4 linked regions of the Homo sapiens genome follow. The protein of the gene in region 4 interacts with the protein of the main gene of each other region in a pairwise test. Each region holds a gene or a part of one and is shown on either strand. Other genes may lie near its edges.

Evidence for each region.
Region 1: the proteins of ZNF829 (region 4) and ERN1 interact in binary tests that used the Homo sapiens proteins (3 or more experiments, as listed by UniProt).
Region 2: the proteins of ZNF829 (region 4) and DNAJB6 interact in binary tests that used the Homo sapiens proteins (3 or more experiments, as listed by UniProt).
Region 3: the proteins of ZNF829 (region 4) and CHAT interact in binary tests that used the Homo sapiens proteins (3 or more experiments, as listed by UniProt).

The regions. Positions count from the first base shown.
Region 1 is NC_000017.11:64,119,955-64,127,144, reverse strand, and holds part of ERN1 (serine/threonine-protein kinase/endoribonuclease IRE1 precursor), read left to right. Parts: intron 1-7,190. UniProt on the Homo sapiens protein: Serine/threonine-protein kinase and endoribonuclease that acts as a key sensor for the endoplasmic reticulum unfolded protein response (UPR).
Region 2 is NC_000007.14:157,360,815-157,368,004, forward strand, and holds part of DNAJB6 (dnaJ homolog subfamily B member 6), read left to right. Parts: intron 1-2,346; coding exon 2,347-2,456; intron 2,457-5,687; coding exon 5,688-5,747; intron 5,748-6,558; coding exon 6,559-6,669; intron 6,670-7,190. UniProt on the Homo sapiens protein: Has a stimulatory effect on the ATPase activity of HSP70 in a dose-dependent and time-dependent manner and hence acts as a co-chaperone of HSP70. Plays an indispensable role in the organization of KRT8/KRT18 filaments.
Region 3 is NC_000010.11:49,617,027-49,624,216, forward strand, and holds part of CHAT (choline O-acetyltransferase), read left to right. Parts: intron 1-2,698; coding exon 2,699-2,890; intron 2,891-3,468; coding exon 3,469-3,587; intron 3,588-5,070; coding exon 5,071-5,124; intron 5,125-7,190. UniProt on the Homo sapiens protein: Catalyzes the reversible synthesis of acetylcholine (ACh) from acetyl CoA and choline at cholinergic synapses.
Region 4 is NC_000019.10:36,913,263-36,921,263, reverse strand, and holds the start of ZNF829 (zinc finger protein 829), read left to right. Parts: upstream 1-4,972; 5' UTR 4,973-5,253; exon of another isoform or gene 5,254-5,309; coding exon of another isoform or gene 5,310-5,468; intron 5,469-6,012; coding exon of another isoform or gene 6,013-6,096; coding exon 6,097-6,134; intron 6,135-6,241; coding exon 6,242-6,299; intron 6,300-8,001. UniProt on the Homo sapiens protein: May be involved in transcriptional regulation.

The sequences.
Region 1 (7,190 bases), on a different chromosome or scaffold from region 4:
ACATTGGTATTATTAAGCACTTGAGGCTGTCTTTTGTTAATCCAGAATGTGCTTATTTAGTCAGTGAGTTTTTCCTTTCTTCCTAGACCTATATCTTGCTCCTAGAGTTGGTTAGGGTTACATCATCACTGTCAGCAGTCCTCATTTTATGGTTATTTAGGTGCCACATCTCTCAATTACCAAAGAGATCAGTACAATGTGAGGCAAAGTACCTTTTTTTTTAAAAGCTATAAGATATCAGATTTCTTTCATTTAGCCAATATTTTGGTTTTAGAGGGAGGTTTTTAAAAAGTCACCGAGAACTGAGGATCATGTGTGTATAGAAACACTGTAATCTGATAGATGAGTCTTAACTAGCAATGTCTTTGCTTATCATTTATTCTGACAGTGATCACCTGCATTAATTATCCTAATAGGCGATATCAAGTGTTTATACTGAGGCCATAAGTAGAATGTTCATTGAGTTTGTTATCAGGGCTGCTGATCATGAAATTAAACTGTAGTTGTGCACATGTGTATTGTTTCATTAACTTGCCTGCCTATTCAGCCTTCTGCAGTAATGTAGCTTCTCAGAGCACAGGAGAAAAATGTATCTGAGAGTTATTCGAGAGAGAGTTCAACAATAGCCCATATTTCCGAACATAAATCTAGTGAGCCGCATTAAAGTTTCTTCATGTCTGGATGGAATAGTGTCACTTGCATAGGTCTGAGGGTTTCATTATTTGCCTGCCCCAGATTTGGACTCCGTTTTTCAGGTGAAAGAATCCTTGGATAACTGTTTCATTTTCATAGGAAACCTCTTTGGTTTCGGGATCCAAAGTAATATGTAGGTTCAATATTTTGTAGGTTTTATAATCAAATGTCTCCCTAAAGAGATGACATAGGGAAGAAAAGCCTAATGTATCATCTTAATGGATTCAGTTTTTATTATGCACAAATAACTGGGCTTGTAACCTAGGAATATGATTAGAGCGTGATGCTGGCTTAAAAAATAGGACTGGTGAATCACAGTTTGTGAATAATAAACTACTGGTTGGAAATATTTCCCAGAAGCAGTTTTTTTTTTCCTTTCTATCTTTACCTATATCCCATGTTTGGTTTCAAACTTCCCTGCCTTAGAGCAACACAGCTGGTTTTAGACAGTCTTTCTATCAATATCTTATAATCTTTGCTCATGTACAAACATACAGCAAATACAACGGTATAAAAATACGATGTTATCTATTTTTGTTCACTTTTTCCCCACAGAACATCTTCTGTAACCCGGTAGAAAATGTTCTGAGTACACCATCACATTTGTCACTTTAGTAGCACCTTAGTAAACCATCATCCATGTAAAAAAACATTGAGCTTCTCAGCCGGGCTTGGTGGTTTGCGCCTGTAATCCCAGCACTTTAGGAGGCCAAGGCGGGTGAATCACTTGAGGTCAGGCGTTCGAGAGCAGCCTGGCCAACATGGCAAAACTCCGTCTGTACTAAAAATACAAAAATTAGCTGGGCAAGGTGGCATGCACCTGTAATCCCAGCTACTCGGGAGGCCGAGGCAGGAGAATCGCTTGAACCTGGGAGGTAGAGGTTGCAGTGAGCTGAGATCACACCACTGCACTGCAGCCTTGGCAACAGAGCGAGACTCTGTCTCAAAAAGAAAAACAAAAAACAAAAAACATTGAGCTTCTGTGCCCAGCCGTGGGTTGGGGACTGGGGTTATAACTGATCAGGGTTGATGTGGTAATAAGCCGAGCTTTGCCTGCCAGTCATCTTGCTGTGGCCATAGGGATCATAAAGAAAGGGGTATTTTCATTTTTTCAATTATTTTATGTTTGGTGCTTTCTGTATGATAACAGGGGAAGATATTTTTTTTTGAGGCATTATCTCAAAGTAATCATATTCATTGTAGAAAAGTTAGAAAGGATAGATAAGCCTAAATTAAAAAATAAAAAACAAGCCTTCTATTATCTTATTTTCCAAACATTACCTCTATGAAGATTTTAAACAATTTTATTGAGATATAATTCACCTATCATCACAATTCACCCATTTAAAGTGTACAATTCGGTGGGTTTTAGTATATTGACAGAATTCTGCAGTCATCACCACAGTCCATTTTAGAACATTTTCATCATCCCAGAAATAAACTTCATACCTATTAGCTGTTACACACCGTTTCCCCCCAAACCTCCTAGTCCTTGGCAACCACAAATCTACTTTCTGTCTATAAATTTGCCTATTCTGGACCTCTTATATAAATGGAATCATACATTATGTGGTCTTTTGTAACTGGCCTCTTTAACTTAGCATCATGTTCTCAAGGTTCATCCATGTTGTATAATAACATGTGTCAGTACTTTGTTCCTTTTTATTGCTGAATAATATTCCATTATATGAATATACCACATTTTATTTATCCATTGTATTAGTCCATTTTCATGCTGCTGATAAAGACATACCCGAGACTGGGCAATTTACAAAAGAAGTAGGTTTAATGGACTTACAGTTCCACGTGGCTGGGGAGGCCTCACAATCATGAAAAAAGGTAAGGAGGAGCAAGTCACATCTTACGTTGATGGCAGCAGGGAAAGAGAGAGCTTGTGCAGGGAGCTTCCCATTTTTAATACCATCAAATCTCGTGAGACTTATTCACTATCACAAGAACAGCACGGGAAAGACCCATCCCCATGATTCAGTTGTCTCCCACGGGGTCCCTCCAACAGCACATGGGAATAGTGGGAGCTACAAGATGAGATTTGGGTGGGGACACAGAGCCAAACCATATCATCCATCCATTGAGGGACATTTGGATTGTTTCTGCTTTGGGACTATTAATAATTCTGCCATGAACATTTGTGTACAAATTTTTGCGTGGACATTTATTTTCACTCTTCTTGGGCATATATCTAGGAAAGAGATTGTTGGGTCATATGGTAACTCTTTGTTTAACCTTTCAAGGAACTGTCTGACTGTTTTCCAAGGCAGCTGCACTATTTTACATTCCCACCTGCAATGTAGGAAGGAGGGTTACAGTGTCTCTTATACCCTCACTGATACTCGTTATTACCTATCTTTTTAATCTTAGCCATCCTGGTGGATGTGGAGTGGTAACTCATTATAGCTTTGATTTGCATTTCTCTAATAACTAATCTAATATCTTGACATATGTTCTTTCAGATGCTTTTTCTGTGCACATATTTACAGGTAATACTTTTCTTCCCCACACTGGAACATATAGATCTATGTCAATCAGCTTAATTCTGCAACATTATTCTTAATTGGCTGCGTAGTATTTCTCTGAATGGAATGGATGTACCATAATTTGACCACTCAATCATTTAGATATTGAGGCTGTTTTTATTTTTTTTTATTTTTTCACTACACAGATATGTTTTTATTTTCATTATAAAAATTATAACAATGTAATGAACTTTCTTGTTGCTAAACTCTTGAATGAGTTTTAAGTGCTTAGTTATTTCCTGGAGATAGATTCCTAGAATTGAAATTTGCTGATTGTATGTAGTATTTTACAGCCCTCTCCCCCAGCCCTAAGCAATGTTGAGTGTTTTAAAAACAAAACTAACCTTAAATTGTTTTTATGATAGGCGGTTTAAAGTATGCTATTTTCTTTTATCAGTGGCCACTTTCTTTTAGGAGCGTAGACTTTAAAAGTTGGATGAAAATAGAATGTTTACATTTTGTTTATATTTTGAAGATGTAAATAAACCAAGGCAGTCTCTGGATGATACCCTTTGTACCTAAAAGCTATTGAGAAAATGTTTTATTTGGATTTGTTAAATGACTCATTTGTGGGGTCCTTTAGTTTGCAGTGGTTTCAGATCAACTTTCTAGGAGATGTGGCACCCATGAGCACCCTGAAATACCTCGGGATAATTCTCTGGTTTTGAGGGTGGCCCGCCTCCTACAGATAAGATTCTTTGTATGGTCGGTTGTGAGGCCATTTAAAACTTTTGCCTTAAGACTTCATAAATCAGAGTTGATACATTGATTGTCCCTTTTGGAGGCTGCAGTTCTTAAAACATGTGGCTGTTTTTCCTAGGAATATTTAAGTACCACTTGATAATAAAGTACTACCTTTTGCTGGGATTATCTACCTGGAAAAAAAAAGGGAACAAAAAATTAAAAATAAAATGTAATATCTGTGGTGTTTTATTTTTTGTTTTGTTTTGCTTTTCCTGCAAATTTATTCTTCCAAAAAAAATGTCCCTTTCAAAATAATCACCCTTTGGCGTGAATTTACGGGTTATTGAAATCAGTCTTAAAAAAATTTCCAGTTAAATTTAACAACTTATCTAACCCATTTAATAATTCAACTTTAAAACAAAAACGAACCTTTGAAAACAAATATTTACTCTTAAGCCAGTTATCCTTATACAAGTTAAAACATTCTCCAATTCCTTCCAGTCTTTGCTTAATAGGACTTTTACATGATTCACACTACACTTTTGATCAAAATTGTTATTACCCAGTTTGATCACACAATTTATTGAGGACACTTGGATTTGGTTTTCAGCTATTTATTAAAATGAAATCCATCCTAAAGTGAACAGGATTTTTACCATTTAGGGGATTCAAAAGTATATTCTTTGAAGGGAATTTCCAAAGAATTCCAGAAATATTTTGAGCCCTAGAAGCATGTATGAATAGATGTGTAGCCTCCCAAGATAACTGGAATCAGAGTGCATTAGACTGCTTGATGGGCTCTCGGCCATGTAGTCCAATGAGTCTCAATTTTTTCCCCTTCCAGCTGCACATAAGAAATATGGCGCACATCCCTCAGTAACAGTATGAGCACATCAGAACCTAGGAGGGTGGTGTTTGGGGCACCCTCTCTCAGGCATTACCCTCCTCTCCCAAGCTGAGAAAAATTACTACCCTGCTCTGTCTTCCAGAGCAGACAGATGGGAAAAGGCAACCAGCAAGGGCTGGTAACCTGTCCAGGGTCATGTGTGAGTGGCAGAACCAAACCTTAAACTTGATCCTCCTACCTCCCTTTGAAGAGAAGCCCCTGCAGTGCTTATGTTCTGGTGCGTATGTTGGGACAAACCAGTCTGGCTACCCTCAGTCATACCCTGAGGAGCTGACCAAACTATGTGGCCATGAGAGAAGGATCTAGAGAAGGTCTAGGCCAGTAGGCTTTCTTGTAAGCTTCAGGAAAATACCCAGATAATGTTATTTTTCCTCCGTTAAGAATCATGGCCTTCTACCCTTTGTTGCAGTTGTGCGAAGATGCCATTTTGAGATGGGAATGCTGCCTTCACCTGAGAGTCTCCATCAAGGAAATTGGCCATTTTCAACTGTAGAGTCAAATCCAGCAATCATGGAGAGAGTAGGGATTAAAAGCCTGCTCGGCTGGGCACAGTGGCTCACGCCTGTAATTCCAGCACTTCAGGAAGCTGAGGCGGGCGGATCATAAGGTCAGGAGTTCAAGACCAGCCTGGCCAACATGGTGAAACCCCATCTCTACAAAAATACAAAAATTAGCCAGGCATGGTGGCGGGCACCTGTAATCCCAGCTACTCATGAGGCTGAGGCAGAAGAATCGCTTGAACCTGGGAGGCGGAGGTTGCAGTGAGCTGAGATCCTGCCATTGCACTCCAGCCTGGGCAACAGAGACTCCGTCTCAACAACAACAACAAAAAATTGCCTGCTAAGCCTAATTCACAGTTTAAGCTAATTTCTTTGCTTGGAGTCTAATAATATCCAAGCAGGTGCATGTTTTCAGTAACATCTCGCCTAGTCATATGTCTGAAAGAACAAAACTGAAAGTTCTTTCCTTAGAGGCCTTTAACCCAAGCCGCTCTTCTCTAGCTCAGTCACAGCCTTCACCAAGAAGTCCTGAAAAGATAGAACTCTTGCATTACCGTGCTGGTTCTGGGTGTTTGCCTTTGCAGAGGCGCCACCTGCCAAGCAGTTCTGGCACCAGGGAGCAGGTCTGTGATGACAGGAGAGAGACAGTGGCTGTGACTCTGGCTCTTAAACCACAATGGAGGGATTCAAGTTAGCTTAGGTAGCTCTCAGAGGAGACTAATGAGGGAAGGAAGGAGCAAGGGGGGAAGGAAGGTGCCCCTGGGAGTGTGTCTCACTTCCCTTGCTGGTTCATCCGAGAAGGCAGGGACCCTGGCTTGCTGATGGTTGCATCCTCTGTGGCATTTAACGTGGCATGCTGGTTATACCCACTGTAGGGGGCACTCAGCAAATATTTATTGAATTCTTCTTTGAGACTCATTAAGACCAATAAAGGGGCTGTATTATATCATCAAGCAAGTGGGTTGTGGATGGGGGTGGGAGGTATTGCTTCAGCTATATTTTATATTCTTTAATGGGATTGCACCAGTTGTGTGTCTTTCTACAGAACTAGAGGAGCTTTCAGGATATTTGCTTGGGTGGACGTGACCCATAGTGTGTAGTGTTCTTTTGGTGGGCTCTTCTTATCAGTAATGAGATTAATTTTTCCATTGCCAAACTCCATGAGGTAAACAGTTTGTGATTATTTCATGTCAGTTTCATTTTTCACTCAGCATGATGTTTCACTGTTAAAAAAATGAACCTTGGCCCAGAGTTGTCCTCTCATGTATTAAACATGACTTCCTTTGTTAGTAGACTAATTTATAATTATAATTCAAAACCATCCCATTCTCCAGTGGATTATTTCCCCCCTCTCTGTCAGATGAAGGAATAATTGTTTGTCTGGGCTGCAGGAGTGTCTGTCATGGAAACCGAATTTTTCTGTACATTCTCTGAACAAACAGTGCTGTCACATCCCTAGAACCTGACATTGTCATTGATCTCCAGTTGAGTCAGAGAAGTTTGTTGACCAAGGTAAATCAGATCTCTCTTCTCTTAAAGCAAATGGCCCATGACTCCTGAGGGGCCACTAGGAGTGAGAGAATCACCTGTACAGGGGGCCACAACTGTGGCTAGGAATGTGTTACTTGAGGCGGTGCTTCCCAGCCATGACTCAGTCACCTGGGGAGCTTTTTAAAAACGCTGTGCTGGGGCCCCATCCTATGTGAATGAAATTGGAATCTCTGGGAGTGGGGGCCGGCATCTTTTCTTTTTTAAAAAAAAAATGTTTAAGGCCAGGCTCAGTGGCTTACACCTGTAATCCCAGCACTTTGGGAGGCCAAGACAAGAGGATCACTTGAAGTCAGGAGTTTGAGACCAGACTGGGCAACAATG
Region 2 (7,190 bases), on a different chromosome or scaffold from region 4:
CTGGGTTTGAGTCACACACCATGGGCCTTCCTTCCTTGGTGCTGAAGTACTGGTGTGCAGGTCCAACAGATCTGAAGGTCAACATTCAAAGTCATTTGGCACTGTTTACACTTGCATATCGTGTTGTATTACACCTTGATTTTTAAATATTTTAGTAGTGTATGACTGGGGCATACACAGTTGAATCTTGTCCTGCATTCTCATCCATTGCCAAGTTTTCATATGAACACTAGATGATAGGTAGTACTGCACACTAATCATTTTTTCTCTTTTGTCTTTTGTATGGTCTGTTATTTTTGACTGAGGATTTCTGGCACATTTAGGGTTATTTGATCCACTGCTACACGTTTTTTTTTTTTTTTGAGACGGTGTCTCGCTATGTCACCCAGGCTGGAGTTCAATGGCGTGATCTCGGCTCACTGCAACCTCTGCCTCCCAGGTTCAGGCGATTCTCCTGCCTTAGCCTCCCGAGTAGGTGGAACTGCAGGCGCCTGCCATGATGCCCAGCTAATTTTTATATTTTTAATAGAGACGGGGTTTCACCATGTTGGCCAGGATGGTCTCGATCTCTTGACCTCGTGATCTGCCTGCCTCAGCCTCCCAAAGTGCTGAGATTACAGGCATGAGCCACTGCGCCCGGCTGCTACATGTTTGTTTAGGTCCACAGTGACATAAATTACTGTTAAGTATTCTGGACTCCAGCTTTAATCAGATTTTAGTATGGTTAAGCCAAGGTTTTGTTGAACATGTTGTAAGTTAAATTGAGCCACAACAGCTTTACAGTAATAACTTGCCTAGTGTTAAAAGCACTGTCAGATTAGTATACTAGTCTGAAATTTTGAGGGGTATGCTGCTTCTCTTTTTTAACGTTACCCTCCTTTTGAATATATGCTGCTTAGGTTTTGCTAATTAGACTAGAGGATTTTTTTGTATTCATTCATTCATTCATTCATTCATTCATGCATTCATGTTGAGCCGGAGGCTCGCTCTGTCACCTAGCCTGGAGTTCAGTGGCACGATGTTGGCTCACTGCAACCTCTTTCTCCTGGGTTCAAGCAATTCTTCTGTCTCAGCCTCCTGAGTAGCTGGGATTACAGGTGCGTGCCTTCATGTCCGGCTTTTTGTATTTTTAGTAGAGATGGGGTTTTGCCATGTTGGCCAGGTTGGTCTCGAACTCCTGACCTCAGGTGATCCACCCACCTCGGCCTGCCAGAGTGCTGGGATTACAGGTGTGAGCCGCTGCACCCGGCCTTTTTTTTTGTATTTAAATAGCGTGCAATTATTTGGTCAGTTGGAACTCTGCAACAGAATATGACCTTGGTCATAGAATCTTTGTAGAAGTCAGTGTTTTAACTCTGTTTAGATCTTGAATCTGGCACAGAGGGTGTTTGAAAGATTCTGAGATCCTGGCCTGTTGGGTGGCAGGTGATTCACCTTTGGCACACAGATGAGCTAGGTAGTGGGGCTGGCTGAGGAAGTAGGGTCCTGGGAATCAGAACATGGAAGGATATGAATGGTGATGTTGGATCTTGCTGCTCAGTGACCCAGGCCTTTTTTTCCCTTTTTAAAAATTTTTTGAGACGGAGTTTCGCTCTTGTTGCCCAGGCTGGAGTGCAATGGTGCGATCTCGGCTCACCACAACCTCTGCCTCCCAGGTTCCAGTGATTCTCCTGCCGCAGCCTCCTGAGTAGCTGGGATTACAGTCAAGTACCACAATGCCCGGCTAATTTTGTATTTTTAGTAGCGTTGGGGTTTCTCCATGTTGGCCAGGCTGGTCTCGAACTTCTGACCTCAGGTGATCTGCCCACCTCCCAAAGTGCTGGGATTACAGGCATGAGCCACCACGCCTGGCCTTTCTCCTTTACTTCACATACTTGCTCAGTCTTGTCACTGTCAGTCCACGTTGTGGACACTGTGATCTTTATTTTTCTATCTCTAGAGGTTCGTTTGTATTATGCTATCAGGATTTTTATTCTAAAACTTACTTTAATGAGTATTTTTACAATTTTAATTTTGAGACAGTCTTGTTCTGTCGCCCAGGCTGGACTGCAGTGGTGTGATCATAGCTCACTGTAGCCTTGAACTCCTGGCCTCAAGCAGTTGTCACGCCTCAGCCTCTGGAGTAGCTGGGTCTATCTGTGGCTGCACGCCACTACGCCTGGCTATCTGGATTTTAGAACTTTGTGTATTTCATTGTAGAGGAAAGGGAGGTTTTACAGTTAAAACCAGTATTCATCTCACCAGTTGGCAGCTCTGAAGCCATTCTCGTGGTTAATGATGTTAGTTTCAAAAGCATAGTTGATTTCTGGATTTAGAATGTGATCTATATCCTTTATTCTTTCCAAGATATCGGAAACTGGCACTGAAGTGGCATCCAGATAAAAATCCTGAGAATAAAGAAGAAGCAGAGAGAAAATTCAAGCAAGTAGCGGAGGCATATGAAGTGCTGTCGGATGGTGAGTGACAGCGAGCTGCTGAAGGACCCTGAGCGGGCATGCCGGAATGCGGAGTGGGTGTTGGGATCCTCCTCAGGGTAGCACAGTATGGACTCAAGTGACTTGTTTTTGATGCCTACTGGATTTTGGGCCCTTCTAAGAGATTTTTACTTTTCTCGTGAAGATTTGAATTGATTTAGGTAACCACGAGTGCTGGGGAGCTCCAGGGCTTCTAGTAGTTTCTCCTAGGATGGCTGTTTTAAAAGCGGGACTAGACATCCTGGGTTTGAGGAACCTGGGAGAGAGGAGGTTGCGGGACTCAGGTCACTGTGCATGTGGCGTGCTTGCCCCCGTTGTGTGTGATCATTCTGACCTTGCTCACCCCCACTGGCTTAAACAATACCATTCCAGTGGAGTCAGCTTTACTGCTTGAGAGGATGTCATTAGTTCCCAAAAAGAGGGGATGGAACATACAGCTAAAATTTAGATTTCCAGTTTCAGGCCTGTTTTCCCCTCCTAGGTCTGGAGCAGAGGTGTTCTATGTTACTGGAAGTCAGATCCATTGGCCTAGTTCACAAATGGGTGAGGGGTCAGAGGTCAGCTGTCGCCTAGATGCAGTCAGGGTTCCATGGGGGAAGTAAAGGCTGTGCATGGGGCCTGGGGTGGGGGAACAGTGACAGAACTGGAAAGCCACACAGTGCCCCTGTCTGCTGCAGTGCTGGGTGGCCTGTTGTGAGCAAAGGCCGAGGCTTTTCCAAGGTTAGGGATGGACTAACTGAACCCTGGAAGTGGGCACTTGGTTAAGTGTATCTGCATGTGGTCAGGTAATTGGCCCTTATTTACAACAAAAAAAATTTTTTTTTTTTTTAAAGAACCCAATTTGAGGCAGAGGTTGCAGTGAGCCGAGATTGCGCCACTGCACTCCAGCCTGGGCGACAGTGCGAGACTGTCTCCAAAAAACAAAACAAAACCAAACCAATCAGAAGGAACCCAGTGTAAGCTTGCCACCTTCAACAGCTACCAGCACACCACCAGCCTTGCTTTCTCTGGTGACACTGTGGCCCACCCCCTTTGTTTTAGAGGAAATTCCAAACATTTTACTTCAAAAAATATGAAAAGACATAAAAACACCGATATTTGAAGTCTTCTTGAAATGTGGCATTTAAGGTCTTGAACTGTTGAGCTTATTCATTGGAAAGTTTATTTTTTTTAAAGAGAGAGGATCTTGCTATGTTTCCTAGGGAGGCCTTGAACTCCTGGGTTGAGGTGATCGTCCTCTCTCCTCAAGTTCCAAGCACCATTGCGCCAGGCTTGTTCCCTTAGATTTGTGCGCTGGGAGTGACAGAGGAGGGCACAGGCCTCAGTGTTACCATCTTGGTCTTCGGTCCTTGTTGTTTGTGTGCTAATTCAGTATTGCCAGATTCAGGATTTTAGGGACTAGTAACATTAGGAAAAGTGAGGGCCAAAATGAAGCTTCATATTTGATAGAGCAGCTTTAAACTACCACACTGAAAAGTCGCTTGGTTCTTTTGGGAGGTGTATGAGGTGTGTTTTTCATGTCCTTTTAGGCAGCCTTCAGTGCCAGCTGGAGTTGTCTTCAAAACATGGTCATTGTTCTTGCCATGGCACTGGCTACCTGAAACTGCTTGCAAGTGGTTTGTTTCTAAGCTCGTTTTCCCATTTTGTGGAATGTGAGATTTTCTTCTACTTTTTAAAAATTGAGAAGGGGTCTCACTCTGTTGCCCAGGCTGGAATGTAGTGGCATGATCACAGTTCGCTGCAGTCTTGACCTCCCAGGCTCAAGCGATTCTCCCATCTCGGCTTCCTGAGTAACTGGGACCACGGGTGGGTGCCACTGTGCCCAGCTAACTTTTTTGTATTGTGTTTAAAGGTGGGATTTTGCCGTGTTGCCCAGGCTGGTCTTGAACTCCTGGGCTTAAGTGATCCACCTTCCTTGCCCACGCAAAGTGTTGGGATTATAGGCGTTAGCCACTGCATCCAGCCTATGAGATTTTTTGAGGAACGCAGATGGTGTCATGTCAGAAGTACCAGTGCTTCTAATGTCATTGTTTTTGTTCTGGGATATAAGTAGCATTTGGAATGTAAGTGTGAAGACTGTCAGTGGAGAGGGGCACACTAGCCCCAGGCCTTGCATCCGGGTGGTCCACTTCGAGGGTGAATGAGCCTGTAGGGTGTTAGGTTGGCGCCTTTCTGGCACATCTGCTTTCTCCCACTTGCCTAGGCCCTGGCATGTTTGTTTTCGTGCTGCAGATATGGTCCTCTAATTGGGTTTTTGTAGTAAGATGGTGCACTTCTGTGGTTGCAATAATCTTGTACTTGGTCGTGTGATTTTAATGTAGCATGTCTGGGCTCTGTGCAGTAGAGTGAAAGAAACGATCTAATGGAATAAAGAAAAAAATTTTTTTTTGCTTTTGAGATGGAGTTTTGCTCGTTGCCCAGGCTTGAGTGCAATGGTGCAATCTGGGCTCACTGCAACTTCTGCCTCCTGGGTTCAAGCGATTCTCCTGCTTCAGTCCCCTGAGTAGCTGGGATCACAGGCATGCGCCACCATGCCTGGCTAATTTTGTATTTTTAGTAGAGACTGGGTTTCTCCGTGTTGGCCAGGCTGCTCTCGAACTCCTGACCTCAGGTGATCGGCCCTTCTCGGCCTCTGAAAGTGCTGGGATTACAGGTATGAGCTACCTCGCGTGGCTAAGTCCCCCCCGCGCCTACTCTTGTTGCCCAGGCTGGAGTGCAATGGCACGATCTTGGCTCACCACAAACTCCGCCTCCCGGGTTCCAGCTATTCTCTTGCCTCAGCCTCCTGAGTAGCTGGGATTACAAGTGCCTGCCACCACGCCTGGCTAATTATTGTATTTTTACAAGAGATGAGGTTTCACCATATTGGCCAGGCTGGTCTCAAACTCCTGACCTCAGGTGATCTGCCCACCTTGGCCTCCCAAAGTGGTGGGATTACAGGTGTGAGCCACCATGCCTGGCCGTAAATACTTAAATATTTCTAATAACTTGTAAAAATTCAACATACTGAATTTTTTTTGAATTGTTTTTCAGGAGAGAGGTACAGAAAGTTTTCCCTGTTGCTTTGTTTTGTTTTAAAGAAAAGGTGGCCATACTCCTTGAAATTCAGTTGTAAAACATCGAAAACTGATTTACAACTGGGGAAATACCTTATCTATTGAATTAAGGGTTTAAAAGGAACTTGGCCTTACCGACTTTTCTTTCAATTTTTAGCTAAGAAACGGGACATCTATGACAAATATGGCAAAGAAGGATTAAATGGTGGAGGAGGAGGTAAGTACGTGAGTTTTTTCTTTGAAGACAAAAGGTCTTGGCAAGTAAGTTGAGTTTGTAAATCACGAGTCTCTTGGTCAGAGTCGATTTTGTATCAGTAAATAGAGATGCAACGTAGAAAGCGAACTAAATTGGGGAGAGGACAGAGAAATTGATGGCATTTAAAAGTCTTTTACGAGACTAGAAGTATATGTTGATGTATTTTTTATAGATAGAAACAATTTGTAACCATACTGCAATATATTGTGAACATATACCCTTAGATCAGCACTTGACGTTATGTCAAAATATCCTAAGGGTTTAAAGAGCAGATTTTCCTGAAAAGCTAAAATAATGACTTTGAAGGGCGTGGACTTTGTCCCCAAAAGTTCCCACGGTCACTGGGCTGTGACCAGCCTCCCCAGGGGTGTTGGGAAATTATTGCTCCAAACCCACTGGGGCCACGCGGCAGCTTCTGTGGCTCCAGGAGGCCAGTCGTCGAAGTGGATGCAGATACTCTTGGTCTTCATAAACCTTCATAACAAATCATAAAAATGGTGTGTAATGTTACATGTTATATGCCGATCACGGATTTAGAGATGGTGAAAAGTAGTGTCGAAGGGGCCACTGCTGCACTCATATGCCATCAGCGCTGGGCACACTCACTCTCTGTCAGTACAGGGCTCATGTTTTGAATTATAGAGAACTTCAGGTTTATGAAATATTTTTGTTTTTATTAGTTCATGATTTGTATAATGTTTTGTCAACAAAGAATTCTTTGCCTACAAAGCACCAAAATTCATAAACTAAAAGCTGTGTTGTATTTGTGCAGGTGGAAGTCATTTTGACAGTCCATTTGAATTTGGCTTCACATTCCGTAACCCAGATGATGTCTTCAGGGAATTTTTTGGTGGAAGGGACCCATTTTCATTTGACTTCTTTGGTAAGTTAATCACGTGGGTTGACTTGGTGTGTGTCCATGACCCAAATGAGGGCTTACTTAGTATGGCCTTTCTGTTGAATTAACATTGTATTTTAGGCTGGGCGCGGTGGCTCATGCCTGTAATCCCAGCACTTTGGGAGCCTGAGGCGGGCAGATCACCTGAGGTTGGGAGTTCAAGACCAGCCTGACCAACATGGAGAAGCCACGTCTCTATTAAAATACAAAATTAGCCGGGCATGGTGGCGCATGCCTGTAATCCCAGCTACTTGGGAGGCTGAGGCAGGAGAATCACTTGAACCCGGGAGGCAGAGGTTGCGGTGAACTGAGATCATGCCATTGCATTGTTGTCTGGGCAACAAGAGTGAAACTCCTGTCTCAAAAAAAAAAAAGTTAACATTGTATTTTGTCACGAAACTTTGTGTTTAAAGCAGCATTGGACTAGCCTGAACAACATGGTGAAACCCTGTCTCAACAACAACAAAAAAAATACTAAAAATTAGCTGAGTGTGGTGGCGTGTGCC
Region 3 (7,190 bases), on a different chromosome or scaffold from region 4:
CCACTGGCCTGAGACAATGCCATCCTCCCTGGGCAGGCATCCTCCCTCCCGCCCCAGCCAGCCTTCGGGTGGCAGAGCAACACACCTGACTTCAGGTGGTTGCATGTGTTTCCCCTCTCCCACACTTGTCTTTTTGCCACTCCTCTTCCCCCTTCCCCCTTCCCCTTTCCCCCAGCCCTCATTTGAAACCCTGAGCAGAATTTTCTGGCTTCTCCCCAAGAAGCTGTTCACTCCATTGCCCTGAATTCTGCAGCTGACAAACATCTATTGTCACCTCTGGTCCACTGGCATGCTTCTCTACCCACCCCATTGGGCTGTGGCTTCCTTCAGAGCAGGCTCTGTTTCTCCATCGTCTCTGAGTCCAGCCCAGGATCTGACTCACATGAACTGCCCAGGAAACATGGAGTTTTGGAGCATTGATCTGAGACTCCCAGGTCCAAAGACACTCCTTAGCACAGGGCCAGAAGTCCAGGAGAGTCTGGGGAGGATCCCTGGGGGGTTGAGATGTCTGAGCTGCGATTTCCTGCTTTATTCCTTTTTACCCACTGCTGATTCCCTGTTAGCCAGGCTAAGTCACAGCGCACTGTCAGAGCCTGGAAGAAGGGGAGCAGTGTCTGGCAGAGGATCTAGCCAGACTTGTGGGCCCTTTTGGCCAGGTCACTAACTGGGCTGGGCTTTCTGTAGGTGCTCACCCACCCATCACACAGACCACCCCCCCCACCGCAAGAGATGGAAGAACAAGATCAGCTGGGTTGGGGGCCCAGACCTGGCTCACTGGGGTTGGGCAGGGCAGTCTGGGATGCTGTCCAGATCCATCCTCGCATCATTCCCCAGGGCAGGAGCAGCCCGTAGTTGGCACTGACACCCCACTGTTGCCAGAGAAGTGAACCCTAGAGGCAGGATCAGACAGGCAGAGGGCCGTCATTCATCCATCAGCAGCAGGGGCAGAGAAGGAGGTGCTTTTAAGGGGCCCATTCACTCTGCAGCCTATGGGGAGGAACCCTTTACTGTCTCATGGAAACTCATCACTGCACAAAGAAGCCCCTGAAGGAAGGTGCCTCACTGTCTACCAGTGTGTCCCAGGAACCATATTGCAGAATTCTGGTCATTAGGGCAGCAATGAATTATGTCTCTTATCCAAAGCCATCTTTTATCCTTCCAAATCTCTCCACAAGAGTACACCCTTCAGGTCCGGAGATCAGCTAGATTCTGGAGCCCCAGCTGAGAACAGTTTATAAATTAAGACTGACCAGGAGACAACAATATCAATAACAGGACTATTTCATCTTAGATCTATCCTTTATGGCTTAAAAGCACTTTCACGTACATTAGCTCTTTAATCCTATGAAAGGCAGGGTTTGCTACCCCCATTTTACAGGAGAAGAAACTGTACAATTTAAGCAATATTATTATAAGTTCTGCCTTCCTATTGTCACTGGCCAAGTGAGGGACAAGAAGAGGAAACGAATGGAAAAGGGAGTGAAAGGGAAGGGAGAGAACGACCCAGGAGAAAGAAGCAGAGTGGACATGGAAGACTGATTTTAGCTCCTAGTCTGCCATCAGATTTGTATGTGACCTTGGACCAGCTGCTCCACTCTCTGGGACTCAGTTTCCTCATTCATAAATGGGAAGTCACAAAATTGAAGCCACACAGAAGCCTTCTGTGGTGAACGCTGCTGGTGAACTGAGAGGCACAGCATGCGTATAGAAGGGTGGAGTTGGGGGTTCTTCCTAGACTCTAGCCACACTTTGGGGCCCCCAAAGAATATGGGTTTCCTCTTGGGAATTCCTCTGGAAGTATAAGATAGCGAGGTCATAACATTTTAGATGTGCCTATTTGAGGCCAGTTGTTCCCCCATTTAATTCTCTCTGTGTTCCTCTCAGGTAGGAATTGTTATTTATGTCCTATGGATGAGGAGCAGAGGCTTGGAGAGATTCGGAGAGGAAGGACATCCACTGCATCCCCACCCCTGCCCCTAACACCCACATGAAACAAAATTCCCTGCCTGGGTTTTATAAGTAGGAGGGACTTATAAGAAGCTCAGGGCATGAATCATCTTCTGAGGAACCCTCTTTTAGAATTCTAGTCATTAGGGCAGCACTGAATTATGTCTCTCATCCAAAACCATCTTTTATCCTTCCAAATCTCTCCCTAAGAGTGCCCCCTTCAGGTCCAGAGATCAATCAGATTCTGGAGCCCCAGCTGGGAACAATCTCTAAATTAAGAGTCACCAGCAGCCAACAATATCAATAACAGGACTATTTCATCTTAGATCCATCCTTTATGGCTTAAAAGCACTTTCATATCTATTTTCTGTTTGATCCTATGAGAGATAGGGGTTACTACTCCCATTCTACAGAGGAAGAAACTGAGGCACAGAGGGAGGCTGATTTGCCCAAGTTTGCAGAGCTGGTCAGTGGCAGGGTCAGGGTAGAAACCCAGGTCTGTCTGATGCCAATATCACCGTATTTTCCTCTGCACTTTATCCCTTTCTGGGGACAGAGCACAATGAGGTCAGGGACGCCAAACAGGAACTTCCTAAATTCATAATTTTGCTGAGCTGAGCCCTAGAAATGGAGGGGTCCCAGGGTAGAGAACAACACAGGGGCAGAACAATACAGATACTAGGGACCAACTTGGGGACAGGCATGGGGCGCACATACTAGAGGCACAATGCCTATGAACCCTTTCTTCCAGGGGCTGCCCAAACTGCCCGTGCCCCCGCTGCAGCAGACCCTGGCCACGTACCTGCAGTGCATGCGACACTTGGTGTCTGAGGAGCAGTTCAGGAAGAGCCAGGCCATTGTGCAGCAGTTTGGGGCCCCTGGTGGCCTCGGCGAGACCCTGCAGCAGAAACTCCTGGAGCGGCAGGAGAAGACAGCCAACTGGGTAAGAGGGGCAGACAAGGAACCCATAGAAGAGGGGCGGGAGGCAGACCTGGAGACAGAGGGATCTCGGTGAGAGGCAGGTAGGGGACAAAGACAGGGCAGAAGGAGAGATGAGGGACAGGGATGGGGGATAGGTGTGGGAACAGGCAGGTGGCATGGATTGGAGGACAGGAAGGGACAAGGATGAGAAACAAACAAGATGAGGAATGGGAAATACGGATAGAGAAAGAGGCGGACAAATCGGGGACAGGAATTGGGACAGATGAGGACAGAGATCGCATTAGGAAAGAAGAGAGGGTGAAAGGCAGGAAGAAGACACCTGTAAGGACAGGCAGAGGACAGCGATGTAGCACCAAGCCACCAGGATGGGGACTGGGACAGAAGAAAGGAGACAGGAGGGCACAAAGGTGAAGGACAGGCCTGGTGGACTGGGAAGCTCCTGGCACATACCTGGGGCTTAGCATATATTTGTGGAATGAATGAATTAATGCTCTGGTGAAGTGTCCCGATTTTCTCTCGGGGCTGTCAGGATGGGACTGTTTGGGGGGATGTGACGGCCTTCCCTGCCCTCCCCGGCAGGTGTCTGAGTACTGGCTGAATGACATGTATCTCAACAACCGCCTGGCCCTGCCTGTCAACTCCAGCCCTGCCGTGATCTTTGCTCGGCAGCACTTCCCTGGCACCGATGACCAGCTGAGGTGAGGCCTTGGTGCTCCTAGCTCATAACCTGGGGACCCACCCAAGGCAGGGGCCCTTACCCCAGTGCCAGCAAAGAAAGGCCAAAGCTGGAGCCTCGGCTGAGCTTCCTGGGGTCAAATGCCCCGAGACAGTGGACGTCCAGGCCATCAGGTGGGGAGCAAGGTTAGGTGTGGCTGCACTCGAGTGACAATCACACAATTAGCCTTAGTCTATATTTATCTTGCAGTGGAATGGACACTCATGGAGGTCATGGGTCCAAATATCCCCACAGCCTCCACCTGGCTGAGGCCCTGGGAGGAGGCGTGTGTCCCTGGACCACGCCAGTACTTGTCCCTGGGAAACACTGCCCCAGGCTGTCTGAGAGGGCCTCTGCTTCCTTCCAGAGCCCCCAGCTCTAAACAGAGGCCCCAGAAGGCTGGAAACAATTCCTCCCTGCCAGCAGCCAGAGCCTGTGCCATCTGCTGTAATTTCAGAGCTCACTGAGCCGTTGGAAGGGCCTCTGGCCGCTAATGACAATGGAGGATGGGTGCAGGGAGAAAGGGTTTCCCTTCTGGAGTCACTCAGAGTCTGGTCTTAAGACCTGAGTGGGGCAAATGGTGGGGACGGTTTAGAGGGAGGGCAGACCAAAGTGGCCCGAGGACAAGAGGCAGGGCCCACCTCTCCTCTGGGCAGGGCTTAGCCATGCTAGGAAGACCTCCCCACCCCACCCTACCAGCTGGCCAGCCTTCCCTCCCACTGTAGCTGGGGTCTCCCCAGGGAAGAAGGAAGGTGTGGACAGATGAATGACTTCTGAAAACAGTTCTCACAATTGCATCTGAGGGGGTATTTTCCTCCTGGTGCAATTAAGCCAGGCCCAGAATCCTGGTATGACAGTTCCCGCTGCTCGTTTCTCCAGTGCCTTTCCCCAAGCACTCGATTTCCTTTTCATTAGTACCGGGGGGTGGGAGGAAAGGGACCAAATTACTGGCTTTTCCCAGGAGAAAATTTTCCACAAGGCCAGGGGTCCTGCCCTGTCCAGACCCAGGGCTGGCTTTTCCAAGGAAGAACTCCACCCTTCACCCTCCACCCCTTCTGGCCTGCTCTGTGGCCTCTCCTAGCTTCCGTCTCCCTCTCTGCTCCCTCTCCTCTTCAAGATGATTCCAGTTTCCTCTCCCTTCCCCAAGAGCTACTCGACCCCCAGTTCTCACCAAAGGACCATTTTGAATCCAAGGCTTGTGGTGGGCTCTCGGCATGGGGCTGGGGGGCAAGAACCACATCTGATTAGTGCAGGAACCACATCTGATTAGTGCACACGGGGGCGGCATACAATGGGCGATCACAGAGTTTGGCAGTGGGGATGAGGGAGGGAGGAGGGAGGGAGAAGGGAGGGAAGAGGAAGGAGATGGAAGGAAGAGGGAAGGAGGGAGGGGAGGCAGAAGGGAGGGAGGGAGGGAGGAAGCCAGGCCCTGGGAGGAAGGGCTCAGGCCTCCCTTCTCCCTGCAGGTTTGCAGCCAGCCTCATCTCTGGTGTACTCAGCTACAAGGCCCTGCTGGACAGGTAGGACTGGGAGGGTGGTGCCCTGTTCCAGCACAGTCTGCCTATGCGTCTATCTCCCTTGCAGGGACCTTGTCTTTTTCCAGCTCTGTATTCCCATTCCTGGCTCCTGGCACAGAGCAGATGTCCCTGCCCCAACCCACTCCCCCACCATCAGGATGACCTTTAGCCTGGCTGGCCTGTCTGTTAACTGTTCCTTTTCCTGTGGCAAGCACCATCCTTCCTTGATCTTTTAAAAATGTCTCCTCCCTCCACACATACGTGCACAGGTGGAGTGAATTCACTTGAAGCTGGAGAACACATAGGAAGGCGGGGAAGGAAGAGTTGTTAGAGTAAGGTGATGGGAGTTCTGCTTTGCCACTTGGAGGAATGGTGTCTCCAGCGGGAGACTGTATCCTCAATCCCACCAAGCTCAGTGGACATGAGGCTGTTCTGACAGATGGAGAGGGCTGCTCAAGCACCGCAGGCTCTCTTTGATTTTAGGAAGAAAGTCCCTCTCCTGGCCAAGCTTAGGAGAGCAGGAGGGTGTCTGAGAGCAGCAGGGAGAGTAAGCGGGTCTGGAGGACCCAAGTCTCTCAAGGTAGAGACTATAAGGGCATTAGAAGCTGGAAGGAGAGAGAGAGGCCCAAAGAAGCATCCCTTGCACAGATGAGGAAGCTGCAGCTCAGAGAGGTTAAGTAACTCATCCATGGTTACACAGCCAGGTGGTGGCAGAGCAAGGAGGGGGCAAGGGGCAAACTTCACTCTTTGTTCAACTTGACTCAATTCAGTCTTTACCCAGCCTTGGGACAGAGGCTCAGACCCACAGCCCCTTCCAGGGTAGGGCTGTTCCCTCTGGAGAGGGGCAGGCAGAGCTCCCAGACTGTCAGGGTGGAGCAGTTCAGGCTGTCCAGGGCATTCTGCACCACACGCTCCTGTGTGCTCTGCTCACTCCTCTCTAAATGCCATGGGTCACTAGGCCCTGGGCTGTTGTCTCCTCATGGTGTGTCTTTGGTCTCTCCCTTCTTCGTGGACAGCATTCTATTTCCTCCCAGAACTCGCCCCTCCAGCTCACCGTCCTGTCTGTTTTCAAACACCATTGTCTTGCTGGGCCTGGGGACTTGGTGCCCATTCATCACTGACTGCCCCCACGAGACCACTTTCCTTCTGATCCCAGACTTTCACATGTGTGTGCACACTCACACAGACACGAATACCCATGCATATCCACGTGGAGGTTCCCATGTCCAATGATTGAAAAGGACTTAAGACTGGAACATTTTCCTGAGTGCCTGTTTTGAACCTTTAATTAATTAATTAATTAATTTACTTATTCACTTTGCAATGTAGTTATGCTGGGAAGAGGAAGAGAAATAAGGCCTCATCCTCCCCTCAAAATGTCCTTAGACTATTGGGCAAGACAGTCACTTAAACAGACACAAAATACAGCTGTGTCCCTTCCCCTGAGTCCCACACTCGCTCATCCAAGCCTCAGCCATCCCCACCGGGGTGTCTCTCAGTCATTACAAATGAGCCAGGAGAGCTTCGCCTCTCCCTCCCCATTCCCCAACTCCTCCCATACCTTGTCGAGCCATGTCCGTAAGTGCACCAGCACATGCCCTGTTGGTGAGTCTGGGAACCTAGAAGTCACCTGTGCTTGTTCTGCTTTCTCCCTTGCACCTTCATGTAACCCATGGTGCTCAGATGTGGTCATTCTCCCTCCCCACTGTGTCCCCAAGCTCCCTCCTCCTTCCCTGCTGCCCTCACAAGACATCACGTTCCTTCTCTGCCACAACCTCCTTCCTTGTTCTTCCTGTGACACCTTTCAGTCCATTCTCCCCATATAAGCAGGGTCAGTAAAACAACAAAATGGAAACCCAGTCATGCCCCTGCGTGCTAAAGCCTCCCAAGGGCTTTCACTGCACCAAGAATAAGGCGATAGCTCCTCTCCACTGCCACTGGAGCCCCACAGGACCTGGCCTGCCCACCTCTCTGGCCCTGTCTTCACTGGGCCTCAGCCCCACTGGCTTCTCTCTGCCTTTGATCAGTGCTTCTCAAGCTGCCTCTGGGGAAGAACCAATATATTTTCT
Region 4 (8,001 bases):
TCTTGAACTCCTGACCTCAGGTGATCTGCTGGCCTCAGCCTCTCAAAGTGCTGGGATTACAGGCATAAGCCACCATGCTTGGCCGACAGTGATCACTTTCTAACAAACTATTAATATATACAGTCACGCATCACTTTGCAACAGAGATATGCTCTGAGAAATGTGTCATTAGGCAATTTCATCATTGTGCAAATATAAGTGTACTTACACAAATGTGGATGGTATAGCCTACTACCCACCTATGCTATATGGTATAGCCTATTGCTCCTAGGCTACGAACCTGTATGGCATGTTACTGTACTGAATACTGTAGACAACTGCAATACAAAGGTAGGTGTTTGTATATCTAAACATACCTAAACACAGGAGAGAAATGGTAAAAATATAATATAAAAGATAAAAAATGGTACACTGGTAAAGGGCACTTACCATGAATGAAACTTGCAGAACTGGAAGTTGCTCTGAGTGAGTGGCGAGTGAACGCAAAGGCCTAGGACACTACTGTACACTACTGTAGACTTTATAAACACTGTACACTTAGGCTACACTAAATTTATAAAATTTTTATTTCTTCAAATTGTTGAATTAGCCTTAGCTTACTATAACTTTGTTACTTTATAAGCTTTTCATTTTTTTTTTTTTTTAGATGGAGTCTCACTCTGTCACCCAGGCTGGAGTAATGGCACCATCTTGGCTAACTGCAACCTAAGCCTCCTGGGTTCAAGTGATTCTCCTGCCTCAGCCTCCCAAGTAGCTGGGATTACAGGTGTCTGCCACCACACCCGGCTAATTTTTGTATTTTTAGTAGAGACGGGGTTTCACCATGTTGGTCAGCCTGGTCTCTAACTCTTGACCTCCTGTAATCCACCCGCCTCGGCCTCCCAAAGTGCTGGGATTATAGGGGTGAGCCACTGTGTCCAGCCAGCTTTTCAATTTTTTAAAACTTTTTGACTCTTGTAGTAGCACATAGCTTAAAATGCATTGTACAGCTGTACAAAAATATTTTTTCTTTATATCCTTATTCTATAAGCTATCTTCTTAAAAATTTTTTAACTTTTTAAACTTTCTTGTTAAAAATTAAGACACAAACACCCATTAGCCTAGGCCTACACAGTGTCCAGGATCATTGGTGCTGGCTTTCACCTCCACATCTGGCCCCACTGGAAGATCTTCAGGGACAATAACACACACAGAGCTATCACATTCTATGATAACAATGCCTTCTTCTGGAATACCTCCTGAAGGACCTGAGGCTGTTTTACAGTTAACTTTTTTTAAATAAATAGGCATATGCTCCAAAGTAATGATAAAAAGTATAGTATAGTAGGCACATGAACCAGTAACATATTTATTATCATTACCAAGTATTATGTACTGTACATAATTTTATGTTATACTTTTATATGACTGGCAGCAGAGTAGGTTTGTTTACAGCAGCATCACTGCAAACACATGAGTAATGGTATTGTGCTACAGTGTTATATTGGCTAGAAAGTCACTAGGTGACAGGAATTTTTCAGCTCCATTATAATCTTACAGCAGGGGTCCTCAACCCCTGGGCCACGTACCGGTACTGGTACAGTACTGGTTCCTGGTTAGGAACCAGGCCACACAGCAGGAAGTGAGCAGCAGGTGAGTGAGCATTACCGCCTGAGCTCCACCTTCTATCAGATTAGTGGTGGCATTACAGCCTTACAGGAGTGTGAACCCTCTTCTGAACTGTGCATGCGAGGGATATAGGTTGCTTGCTCCTTATAGGAATCTAATGCCTCATGATTTGAGGGACAACAGTTTCATCCTGAAACCATAACCCTCCCATCCCCCAGTCCCTGGAAAAATTGTCTTCCACAAAACCACTCCCTGGTGCCAAAAAGGCTGGGGACCACTGTCTTACAGGACCACTGTCATGTATGTATATAGTCCATACATATATGGCACATGACTATAATTTAGTTATATATACTGTCCACCCACCCCCCTCAACATAAACTCCATGAAAACAAGGACTTATTTTTGTCTGTTTTTGATATTCATAGTAGGTGCTCAAAAATATGCTGATAAAATGGTTCAGTCATTATCGAAAACACTATGACAATCAAAGATTAAAAACAGACATTACCACATGTATATATAAAAAACTGAAAGCAGGGACTCAGATAGTTGTATACCCATGTTTGTAGCAGTGTCACTTGCAATTGCCAAAAGGTAGAAGCAGCCCAAGTGTCCAATGATGAATAAATTGATAAACAAAATATTTATCCATATATGACATACTTATCATTCGGCCTTAAAAAAGGAGGAAATTCCAATACATGCTAACATGGATGAATCTTGAGGACGTTATGCTAAGTTAAATCAGGGTCACAAAAGCACAAACAACATATGATTCTGCTTATATGAAGTATTTAGAATAGTCAAATTCAGAGACAGAAAGTAGAATGGTAGATGCCATAGGCCGGGGGAAAGGGGGGTACAGAGTTATTGTTTGATAGGTACTGGGTTTCTGTTTTGCAAGAAGAAGAGTTCTCTGGCTGGATGGTGGTGACGGTACCATAACAATGTGAATGTACTTCATGCCACTGAACTGTACACTTATATATGGTTTAGATGGTAAATTCTATGTTGTGTATTTTACCACAATTAAATATACATGTGTGTATACATAGTTGGTCCTCCTTATCCACAGGTTCTGCATCCTCAGATTCAATCAGCCTCAGATAAAAAATACAGTTAGGCCTACTACAGTTGTGTCTGTACTGAACACGTACAGTACAGATTTTTTTCTCATTATTCCCTAAACAATAACGTGTAACAATGATTTACACAGCATTTACATTATATTAGGTATTACAAATAATCTAGAGATGATTTAATGTATAAAGAAGGATGTAGGGACTTGAGCATCTGTGGATTCTGGTATCCATGGGGGGTCTTGAAACCAACCCCTCCTGGATACGAACTGTATATAGAATAAATGAGCTACTACTACTAATTTGGGGATTTAAAACTAGAAGAGAATAGGCTGGGCATGGTGGCTTACGCCTGTAATCCCAGCACTTTGGGAGGCTGAGGTCGGCAAATCACGAGGTCAGGAGATCTACCATGGTGGCTAACATGGTGAAACCCTGTCTCTGCTAAAAATACAAAAAATCAGCCGGGCGTGGTGGCGCGTCTGTAGTCCCAGCTACTCGGGAGGCTGAGGCAGGAGAATCGCTTGAACTCGGGAGGCGGAGTTTGCAGTGAGCCGAGACCGTGCCACTGCACTCCAGCCTGGGTGACAGAGCGAGACTCCGTCTCAAAAAAACAAAACAAAACAACAACAACAACAAAAACTAGAAGAAAATAATATATGAGACAAGAATAACACAGAAATTGGTGGATATTTTGGAGTTCAAGTATTTTAAAGTCTTAAGGTTGAGTTTTGTTAAGCATGCATATTAAAAAAGGATAATAGCAGAAACCAACCTAGGGGAGAAAAAGGGATAAGGTGAATTTGCACAATAAAAAAAGATATATGTGCAACTATTATATGTCAATCAAAAATGTTTAAGGCGTAATAGAAAATAAAACATTTTTTATGAGCAATCATGATAAATGCCACTGAACTATACTCACCTATTAAAATAACAGTCAAACAAGATAAACGGATGTAAGCCCAGCAATATGCTCTTTACAAGACACAGATCTGAAACATAAAGACACAAGGGGGTTAGAAAATGAAATTCTTAAGAAATACAATAAAACTTGAAAAGCAATATTATCAGACAAAAGAGAACCCGGACTAAAAGGCATTCACCAGGATAAAGAGGTATGTTTCTTAAGGTGGTAGACTGGAATTTTAGTCCAATTCCTCACACCCTCTAATAGATTATTATTCATACTCTTTGCGAGGTAACTTTGCTCTCCAACTGTGGGCATAATTGATTTTAGGCTTAGCCATGTGACTTGCTCTGGTTGAGGCAATCTCTCTTGCGCTCTGGTGACCCATCAGGAGCAGAGCATGCCCTGGCAACAAATGTCCTTTTGGCCTGAGACCCTGAAAGAACACATGCGGCGCAGATCTTAACTCGTCACGCAGCCTATCCACTCAGCCAAGCCCCACCTAGATCAGCTGAACACAGTCAATGCGCAAGCCTGTGAACAGGAGAGTAAGGACTTGCTGTTGTATGGCATTGAGTTCAGGGGTGGTTTTTAGACATAATTATTATCATGGCAATAGCTAACTAACATACATAAAAGCAGCAAGTCATAAGATAATAATGAACCTGAAAAGTTCGCCAAGGAATAGTGGAAAATTACAAAGGGCCAAGGGCTACTAGGGTAAAAAAGACAGCAAAGAAGACTACAGAGGAGTGGCCAACAAGGAGGGAGGATCAGTAGAAAACAAATAAGTGTTTTTCAAGCCGTTACCAACTGTGCCAAATGCTACAGAAAAGCCAGCTCAAGACAAGAACTACTAGACATATTACAATCACGCACACTTCGCCACGTTCACACTCGCTACAGCCTTAATCATAATCACACACATATCACACATTTCATCATAATCCCGCGCAACCAAATATCACAATCACCCCATCAGATTATTCGTGCCGTCACACTCACACACACAACCACACACCCACACTAACTCCCATCACAGTTTTTTGTCCCATCAACTGCAACCACTCACCATTAGCGTACCCTGAGCACTCCCCACTGCCGCTACTCGGGACACTCTGGGCCTTAGAGGATCCGTGTCCCGTCAACCGCGAGTCCCTTGCTCGCCCCCTGCTGCGGGGACTCGGCAGCGTCACCTGCCGGAAACACCCGAATGTTCATCCCGCGCGCAGTTTCTGAGATGCTGGGTGAAGGCGACCCGCAGATAGGTCTGTGACAGACGCCTAAAGCGCCGAACCATCCCTCCGCGCCAGCGACGTTTCCGAGGACAACACCTCCCAGCAGGCCCCGCGGCCCCACTCAACTTCCGGCCAGAACACATCTGCTTTCCTGTGTGAGGGTGAGGCTTGGGCCGGGTTCCCCGGGAGGCTCATCTCCATTGCGCAGCGCTACGGCGACCCGCAACTCCGAGGCTCGGCTGGATGTTGAGAGTTGAGGGAGCAGCCGTTTCGGGTGGGCCCAGGCGAGGAGCTGACAGGAATCGGCGTGGGTCCCGCTCTGGACTACATTTCCCAGAGGGCCTGGTGGCCTGCCACTTTTCTCGCAGGAATTCGAACGTTTCGTCACTCCTGGCGGGACCCTTAGATCTGGGAGGTGAGATATTTTGGTCCCCAGGAGAACTGGCTCAGGTCTGCAAGTTCCCATCCGGGATGACTGGAAAGGGCTTAGGTGAGGATACCGAAGACCGATGGGGAGCTGGCGCCTTGGGCCCCTGCGGGCGGAGCGGCCTGAAAGGTGGAGGTTGTGTTTGGGAGGCCGAGGCAGGAGGATCACGAGGTCAAGAGATCGAGACCATCCTGGCCAACATGGTGAAACCCCATCTCTACTAAAAATACAAAAATTAGCTAGGCATGGTGGCGCGCGCCTGTAATCCCAGCTACTCGCAGGCTGAGGCAGGAGAATCACTTGAACCCGGGAGGCGGAGGTTGCAGTGAGCCGAGATCGCACCACTGCACTCCAGCCTGGCGACAGGGCAAGACTCTGTCCCCACCCCACCCCACCCCCCCAAAAAAAGAGGGGAGGTTGTGAAATTGTCTGGGAGATAATAACACTGCGGCTTATGTGCGGATATGGGATACCTGTCACTGTGGGGGTTGTGGCTGTGTGTTCCCGTGGTGATGTGTGATTGTGACTCTGCGACAGTGTGGGGTGCCTACGATTGTGCAGCTGTAATTGTGTGTTTCCTATGGTGTGTATGTGATTGTAACTGTGTTGCCGTGTGTGGCTCCTTGTGGGCAGGTGAGACGTGCATGTCGCCTTAAGTGTGACTGTCCCTAAATGTATGTGGCATTCTGTGTATGAGTATGGGGTCCTGTCAACTATGCGATTGTGACTCCAGAACTCTGTCTCTAGGAAACCTCTCTGAGGTCTGGTCAGATTCCAACCCTGGACAGCAGTGAACACAACCTTTCCCCTGAGCCACTGGAATTGGACAGAATGCCCCATTCTCCTCTGATCTCCATTCCTCATGTGTGGTGGGTAATGGGGCTGGGGAAGAACTCTTACTTGACTAATCTGGGTACCAAGAAAAACCTGGTGTCTCACAGTTACTCTTCCCTCTCCCAATTTTACCTTTCTCCAGGTGTCACCCAGAAGAGGAGGAAAGAATGCATGATGAACTTCTACAAGCAGTATCCAAGGTGTGTTGGGGTTTCCTCTTTTTCTTCTGAAAATTCTTGCTTAAAGGAATGTCATTTAATTATAGGTCCCTATAATTTTCCCATCACAGAAAAGGATGGTTGCTCCACTTATGCTTGCTGAATTTTCTTCTCAAATATTTATTCTGATTTAAAAATAAAAGGATGATTAATTTAGAGATCTCAAAAACACAGCATTACCAAGAAAAAATAAAATTTAGCCACTCAGATAACTAGGGTTAATATTTTAATGTATTTTCATTATTTGTCAAAAACCAAATTTTATTTCATTTACCATTTGATGTTCTACATTTTTGCAAAAAGAAGTGTCAGAAATATTCTCCCATGTCATCAAATGGTCTTGGGAAATACATTTTTGATGTTTGCAAAAACTATGATATACAAATCAGACATGCCAGACTTTTAAATCCTCATTTGAATATATATCTGTACTTATACCCGCCCACCCCCACAGGTTTGAATTTGGGTTTCCGTGATTAATAATAAAATTGAACATATTCCATATGTTTATTGGTTTTTAGTCATCTTTTGTGACATGTCAGTTCAAATCTTTACTCATTTTTCTCTTGGAATAGCTCTTATTGATTCGTATGAGTTATTTATGTAATCTGGATCTCAGTCCTTTATTGATTGTTTTCCTACTATTTGGACTATTTCATCATTTCCTGTAAGATGATTTTATGATAAGTTCTAATTTTTAAAAAGCTGAGTTTATCAATATTTTTTCTTTATGGTTAGTGCTTTTTGTATCTTTTTAAATAAATCCTTCCCTGTCCCAAGGTCATGCAGATACTCTCCTATATTTATGCTTAAAGCCATAAGTTTCACTTTCATGTTTAGATATTTTATATAGTTGCAACTGGTTTTTGTATATGTTATGAGGTAAGAGTCAGATTCCCCCCTCCTTATTAATACCCAGTTTATCAATACCATATATTGGAAGGTCTATTGTGTTCTCATTGGTCTTCAAATATACCTAGTGTCTATATGTGCATGGGTATGTTTATGAACTCTTTATTCTCTTCCACTGATTTTTTATATTCCTGTGCCAGTATCATACAGTCTTGATTAGCTCGTCTCCCTTGATGGTAATCTGCCTTGTCTTCCTCTGACTGTTTTGTTTTTGGCTTTCTGTAATTTTAGTGTAAGATATATAAATGTGTTTTATTTGTCTGCTTGGGATTTGTAGAGTTTTAAAATTTATGGATGGATATCTATTATTAGTTCAGGAAAATCTTCAGTCATTATACCTTCAAAAAGCCCCCGTATCATTCTCTCCCCCTTTCCTTCTCAGGTTCTAACTAAACATATGTTAGAATTTCTTCTTCTTTTCTGTGTCTTATCTCTTTTTGGTTTTTAGAGTTGATACTTATAGCTGAAATCAAAGCAAACAAAAGAACCTTGCCTCATCTCAGGAGGGGGCAGTGGGCATGGCAGGCAATTACAGAGTTTTTGGATTCTTCCTCCAAGTAATAATAAAAATATCTTTATTCAGTTTGTGTTTCAACACTTCTAATCTTGGGGAACTCACTAAATTGTAAGGTTATCCATTCACCAGGTAATCATTTTATCTGAAAATTAGAGGATACATACTAGGATAGAGGACTCAGAATAGTGACAATGTTTTCTCAAGGTGTAAATTTGGAACTCTGAGTGGGCCTACTCTCAATTTTTAAATTGTATG